2 linked regions of the Homo sapiens genome follow. The protein of the gene in region 1 interacts with the protein of each later gene in a biochemical or structural test. Each region holds a gene or a part of one and is shown in the gene's direction. Other genes may lie near its edges.

Region 1 (3,752 bases):
AGACATGATGGTGTCTCTGCCCAGGAGGGTGTGGTGTGGTTAGAAGTGATCAGATTTGAGATACAATTTGCAAGTATAGCCCCTGGGACCTGCAGATGGATTGAATGTGTGGAGTGAGGGAAAGAGAGGAGCTCAGGGTGACTCCTGGGTTTGGGGCTTGGCCGATGCTCTCCCTGAGCAGCCTGAGTTTCCCTCTGATTCATTTCTGGTACACCAGGCATAAAACAAGGTCCTTGTAACAAGTGACAGAGACAATCATGGTGCTGAGGGAAGAAGGGTGAAGGTGTATGGGGCCCACTCACCTTGATGACATTCCTTGTGCTGAAGCGGGTCCTGGTGACCTGGTGCCAACAGTGCCGGACCTGCCAGACCAGAAAGAGGCAGAGGACAAGCAGGTTGCCACAGCACTGAGGGTCCCTGCAGCTGTGATTCTGGGAGAGCAGGCCCTGCACTGGCTCCCACTCAGGGCCATGGAATGGCCCCACCACAGCACAGGCACCCAGCAGTGACAACAACATGGCAAAGCTTAGATCAGGCAGATGGTGTTGGGAGCTAGAGGGCAGGCCTGGCACATCTGATGCAGCCAGCTGCAGTAGGATAGCCGCCACCTCATAGCACCCCTGTCACTGAGGCCACCTCACAAAGGGGGCTGATGCCCCAGCCTCAACTCTGACCCTGGTGCCAGGCCTGGTTAGCATGCTCTTGGTGCAGGTAAGGACAGTATTGGGGAATTGTTCAAAAGTAATTAGGAGGAAGAACTTGTTTTAAACAAACCCATCCTCTGGAATGAAAAGATTAAGTTCCCTGAATGTGTGATGGGGTGATATAACCTGCGGTCTGCTTGATTTCTTTCTTCCTATGAAATACTTGGATCTGCCTGTCCTTCTATTATCAAACATTTAATGAACACTGTATTGAATACATGTATTCTTGTTTAACCACTCAACATGCCTTTCTCGTTGCTTGCAGTATCCTGATTTCCTGTGGGGGAATTACTTTTCCCATCTTAGGATCAGTGTTGGTGGGAAAATAAATGTTACCCTGAAGACTCTTTTACCCAAAAGTTCTATTCAAAATATTAAATATCTGAGCAGGCAGGGACGTCAGCCAATTATAATGAGCCAGGCCTTAACTGTTTAGTGGCTGGAATTTTTTTTTTTTTTTTTGAGACCGAGTTTCCACTCTTGTTGCCCAGGCTGGAGTGCAATGGCGCGATCTCGGCTCACTGCAACTTCCACCTCCCAAGTTCAAGCGATTCTCCTGCCTCAACCTCCCGAGTAGCTGGGATTACAGGCATGCGCCACCACGCCCGGCTAATTTTGTATTTTTAGTAGAGACGGGGGTTTCTCCATATTGGTCAGGCTGGTATCGAACTCCCAACCTCAGGTGATCCGCCCGCCTCAGCTTCCCAAAGTGCTGGGATTACAGGCGTGAGCCACCGCACCCGGCCCTCTTTTTTTTCTTCTTTTTTTTGAGACGGAGTCTCACTCTGTTGCCCAGGCTGGAGTGCAGTGTGCAGTGGTGCGATCTCGGCTCACTGCAAGCTCCGCCTCCGGGGTTCACGGCATTCTCCTGCCTCGGCCTCCCGAGTAGCTGGGACTACAGGCGCCCGCCACCATGCCCGGCTAATTTTTTGTATTTTTAGTAGAGACGGTTCACTGTGTTAGCCAGGATGGTCTCGATCTCCTGACCTAGTGATCCGCCTGCCTCAGCCTCCCAAAGTGCTGCGATTACAGGCGGGAGCCACCGCACCCGGCCGGCCTTTTTTTTTTTTTTTTTGAGAGTCTCGCTCTGTCGCCTCAGCTGGAGTGCTAGAGTGCAGTGGCATGATCTCAACTTACTGTAGCCTCCACCTCCGGGGTTCAAGCGATTCTCCTGCTTCAGCCTCCTAAGTAGCTGGGGTTACAGGCGCCCGCCACCACGCCTGGCTAATTTTTGTATTTTTTAGTAGGGACGAGGTTTCGCCATGTTGGCCAGGCTGGTCTCGAACTCCTGTCCTCAGGTGATGCGCCCGCCTCGGCCTCCCAAAGTGCCGGGATTACAGCCATAAGCCGCTGCGGCCGGCCGGTGGGTTACTTTTTGAATGTTTAATTCATTGTTTCTGCCAATAATTTGTACTAGGCAGCTCATAAGAACGCCAAAGTACGTTCCTTCTTCGACACAGGGCCAGTTTCCGCGCCAGTGCCCCCGTAGAGGGCGGGGCCCACTCGCTCGCGTAGCGTCACCTTCGCTTCCTGCCGCGCGGGGCCATTTCCGCTGCTGCTTCTGTGAGTTTTTCCGGTGCACGCGAGTGCTTCTGAAACGTCAGCTGCGCTCCCCTAGGAGTGCTGAGCCCGCGGAACCGCAGCCATGGTGAGTGCGTGCGCCGGCCGAGGGACCGGGAAGCGGGAGACTCAGGGTTGCGTTCACTCCCTAGCCTGTTAGATGGAGGCTTAGAGCCTGCGCCGTCTCATCCGCCGGCGTTGGGTCTTAACCGCCGGGCCCTTAGTTAGAACCCCAGCAGCGGCGGGGTCCCAGCAGCCTGGCCCGAGGTTAGAACTCAGGAAACCTTAGGATCCCCGCAGCTGTGTTGCTTTGCCGCACGGTCTGTTTGCTTGGCAAAAGGCCTGCAGCGAGCGGAGGGGGCATGGCCCAGCCTGGGAGAAAGAGACCAACCCACGTGGGAGAGGGCAAAAAGTTGGGTGAAGAAAACTTGGCTCCAACTTTTTTTTTTCCTTGTTTCTTTTCATACGAAATCTACGATGGCGTGGGACCCTGGGATTCGGATCAACCTCTCCTACCCACCCTACCTCACCCCACCCCCGTTGCTGGGGTTCAGGAGGAGATCTCCCATGGGTCTGCGCTTAGTGCCCGCCGCGAGTCACACGCGCCAGGGACCTAGAGGAGCCTTTGGCATTTGGGGGCTGTGGGGAACATGAAGTGAGCGCGACTCACGGCCTGGAGTGCAGGAAAGGCTTCTCCTGCAAGGCGGTGGCTTCAAAAACCAGAAGTCTGGTAGCACCACGTGCGGCGTCTCTAAACTCTTGGTCGTCTCTGACTTTTAAACATCTAGGGAAAGTTCTAAAACGTGTGTCCTGGCGTAGTAGTTTTGGTTGGCACTTGGTGAGGAGGGAAGAATTTGTAAAGCACTGTAACTTCTATAGTTAATCCTTCCAGTGGAGCTTGGATCCCGGCGGTAGCACTCCCCACAAACCTCCTCCCATGCATTTTGAAGCTTAGTACGTGGCTGAGCCTAGAACTTGAAGCTTCCAAACTCAGTGCTCGCTTTAACGCAGCTCCCTGAAACGTTTTGGAATCGGATGGTCTCAGGTTGAACTTTGCAGTTTTCCTCAACTGTAAAATGGGGATGACAGTGCATGAGGGTGTTGTGAGGATCAAATGAAATAAAGCATGGTAAACATCTAGTCCTGATGCTTGGTACAGAGTAAGCACGCAGTATTTGTTGTTCAATCAAAACCTTGCAAGTTTTGGCTGTCTGGTGTACAGCGAAACCAAACTGATCATGCTAGGTAGGGATTTAGGTTGGCTGGTGGTATGATATCATTCGTTAATTTATTTAACCCCTGAAGAAATTGAAAGGCAAATAAATACACCCTAAGCAAGTTTCAATTAGTGTTTATAAGCTAGTTTGGTTTTAAAATTGAGTTTAACTTTTTTGTTGACTAATAGTGAAACATTTAGGTATTTAATGATTGTTCAGATTCCTGAAGTCTTCCTCTTTTATGAATTTGATGTTTATTGAGATTTGAGAA
Region 2 (3,752 bases), on another chromosome or scaffold:
GGAACGTTCAATATTCAATCATAATAATGGATTTGTCTAATTCTCTTCTCAGTTCTATCAGTTTTCGCTGCAATGCATATTGAAAATCTGTTCTTAGGTGTTATTCTTTGTCTTATTGACGAATTGACCCCTTTAGCATTATGAACTGTTCCACTTCATCCCTGGTGATGTTCACTGTTCTGAAGTCTTTTTTGTCTGACATTAATACAGACTTTCGGCGTTCATGTGATTGGTATATGCTTGGTATCTTCTTTCATCCTTTTGACTTCTTTGTTTTACTTTTTAGGAGTTGGTCTGCAGTTTATAGTATGCAGCTTAACTTTTCATCGTGTACTTTCAAATGATATCTACTTCACATGTAATTTAAGATTTTACAGTGTATACTACTTACATATTCCTTCTGCCTTTTTACTATTGTTGTCAGAGATTTTATTTCTATAGATGTTATAAATTGCACATACACTTAATATTTTTGCTTTAGTTTTAAAATTTTGCCAATGAGGAAAAAAAGTCTTTTATATTTATTCACATATTTACTTTTTCCAGCACTTATCCTTCCTTTGTATAGATCCAAGTTTCCATCTGGCATTATTTCTTTCATAGAGATCACTTTCTGTAGCTCTTCATGGTAGTCTTCTCAATTTTTGGTAGTTACAGCTTCCAATTTGAAAAATACTAGAATACATTATAAATGCCTTGCAAAAATCTTTCATAGTTTTAAGTTATTAAGTGAACAATATTATGGCTAGGAGGATTATTATGGATTTGTTGGTTGCTTTTGAAAGGTCTACCTGTTTTGTTTTGTTTTGTTTATTTTTGTGTTTGTTTTTCATCACACTTAGAAACTCCCATCAAGACTGAAGCAGACGTTTTGGCAGAAAACCAGGTTCTTGATAGCAGTGCTCCTAAGAGTCCAAGTCAAGATGTTAAAGCAACTGTTAGAAATTTTTCAGAAGCCAAGAGTGAGAACCGAAAGAAAAGCTTTGAAAAAACAAACCCTAAGAGGAAAAAAGATTATCACAACTATCAAACGTTATTCGAACCAAGAACACACCATCCATATCTCTTGGAAATGGTAAATTATTTTTCTTTAGGTTCTAATCTTTGTGTTCTCACATCATAAAGATAGAGCCACTGGGGTGTGTGTGTGTGTGTGTGTGTGTGTTTGTTTTAAGGTTACCAGAGACACATTGACCTTGGAGACTTTGTATCTTAATTCTGTAGCTACATTTGGCATATAGCTGGTATATTCAGTGAATGTGGAATAATGTAATTTTTACAACCACTTAAAATAAATTTAGGTTTCACTAGTTGGTAAGGAAGTATCTACTGAGGTTTATTGACTTTCTTTTAAGTTTCCAGTGAAAGCACAGCTAAAAGTACAATGGCAAGCTGAAGGGAAAAAAAGATTTTTAGTACAAATGTCTATTGAGAACCATACAGTAACAAAAAGGAAAGGCCTAAGGTTTTCTGACAATTCTCATTTGTTATCTTCTGGGATTGTCTTCCTTCCCTCCCTCCTCCACCTATTTTTTTTTTTTTTTTTTTTAAGAGTTGAGGTCTTGCTTTGTCACCCAAGCTGGAGTGTAGTGGCGTGATCATAGCTCACTGTGGCCTCGAATTCCTGGGCTCAAGTGATCCTACTGCCCCAGCCTCCCAAGTAGCTGGGACTATGGGCATGCACTACCATGCTAATTTTTTTTCTTTGTACACCTTTATTTATTTGTGTTTATTCTGTGCATTCGTGGCTTTATTCTCAGCATTATGTGCTCAAAAATCTAATAGCTTTCTTCAAATTATAAAGAGGAAGCAATGCATCTTCAAGTTCTCAGTAGTGGACATGAAGCTGTTTGAAAATCAAAGATTTTCATGTCTAAGCAATAGAAGTATTTTACATTTTTTAGTGGAGTTATAAAACTTGACATTCTGTGAAAAGTCTGTTTGGTTTTGACTTACAAGTTAAGTACTTATTTTGTAGCTAAAGTGTTCAGTGGCTACACTCTTGAGGTGCTACATGTAGCACAGTTGCTTCCTATTAAAATGGATCTGAAATATACGCTCCATTTTGTATACATAGTAAATTACATTTTAAAAAGTTACCTTATAATTGGTAAATTAAGTGAGCTTTCCACTGAAAGTTTCTGTATGATGTTTCTGAACTCTATCAATAACACCAGAAAATAAAATAAATTCCTTTTTGGCAAACTACATGTGATTCCTTGATTATGTGCTTGTTCTAAATACCAGGGATTTCTAGCTTTCTTTTAATTACAATAAGCACAAAAATGGAAAGTTATAAAAGTCAAGGAATGTTGGAAGTTTTTACTGCTATTTTCATTGTTACATGTAAATAGATGTACTTACCAATTTCTAGACTGCTTATGAATTTGGGTTTGGGCAATCCTCTTTGACATAATTTTAGATTAAAGAATTGCAGACTTTTTAGCCGGGCATGGTGGAGCATGCCTGTAATCCCAGCTACTCGGGAGGCTGAGGCAGGATAATTGCTTGAACCCGGGAGGCGGAGGTTATGGTGAGCTGAGATCGCATGATTGCACTCCAGCCTAGGCAACAAGAGTGGAACTCTGTCTCAAAAAAAAAAGAATCGCAGACGTTTAAACCTATTTTCCTGTCCTATGCTAGATACTCTTAGAGAGGACTCCAAATATAAGCGTTAGTACTGTTTAAAAAGCTAGATTGTCTTGGCCGGGCATGGTGGCTCACGCCTGTAATCCCAGCACTTTGGGATGCCGAGGCGGGTGGATCACAAGGTCAGGAGATCGAGACCATCCTGGCTAACACGGTGAAACCCCGTTTCTACTAAAAATACAAAAAATTAGCCGGGCATGGTGGCGGGTGTCTGTAGTCCCAGCTACTCGGGAGGCTGAGGCAGGAGAATGGCGTGAACCCGGGAGGCGGAGCTTGCAGTGAGCTGAGATCCCGCCACTGCACTCCAGCCTGGGCAACAGAGCGAGACTCCGTCTCAAAATAAATAAATAAATAAAAAGCTAGATAGTCTTGATATAAATTAAAAGGACATGTTCTTGCATCGTTTTTTAGCAAAATAGTGAATATAATACATATTTCTTATTGTTCTGTCTTCTTTATATGGTGAGGGTACATGCAATATTTTAGATTGTATTTCCCAGATATAATTTATTTACTACCTCATCTTTTTTTAAATTGTGTTTTAGCTTCTAGCTCCGGACATTCGACATGAAAGAAATGTGATTTTGCAGTGTGTTCGGTACATCATCAAAAAAGACTTTTTTGGACTGGATACTAATTCTGCGAAAAGTAAAGATGTATAGGCATCTGGTGTTTCAGCATACATAACTGAAGCATGTGAAACAGTATCATCCTCGTTAGTAGAGGAAAACCAAAACCCTTTTTTCCGTCAAAATTGGATTTGTAATTAAATTGTAAGCCTCGTAGGATGTATGTTGGAATTTTAAGTCTTTCCTTTGGTTCTATGCAAATAAAAAAATAACTGATTTTTTAAGACTGTGTCTGTATTGTTGGGATTGAATCTAGTATTTGCTGGGAGAATTTTTTCTTTGTATTTATTTTAATGTATTGTTCTCATGTAAGAATGACTGATGTTGTGTTAGTTAAGAATTGAAGATAGGTTTAGCAGTAAAGAAGAAAGCTTTTAAAAGGATTGATTCAGCTAAGCAAAGTTGGGCAGAGAAATACAGCCATTTTGTTTTTAATGCAGAAAAGGAAGATGTTCTGTAGCAAGGGGGAATATT

The links. Proteins that work in one complex are often made in the same cells at the same time.
Region 2: the proteins of SNU13 (region 1) and NUFIP1 form a complex in vitro, tested with the Homo sapiens proteins (one study listed by BioGRID).

What each region holds. Positions count from the first base shown.
Region 1 is NC_000022.11:41,687,394-41,691,145, reverse strand, and holds the start of SNU13 (NHP2-like protein 1), read left to right. Parts: upstream 1-2,349; coding exon 2,350-2,352; intron 2,353-2,818; coding exon of another isoform or gene 2,819-2,918; exon of another isoform or gene 2,919-3,428; intron 3,429-3,752.
Region 2 is NC_000013.11:44,940,765-44,944,516, reverse strand, and holds part of NUFIP1 (FMR1-interacting protein NUFIP1), read left to right. Parts: intron 1-842; coding exon 843-1,075; intron 1,076-3,194; coding exon 3,195-3,311; 3' UTR 3,312-3,752. UniProt on the Homo sapiens protein: Binds RNA.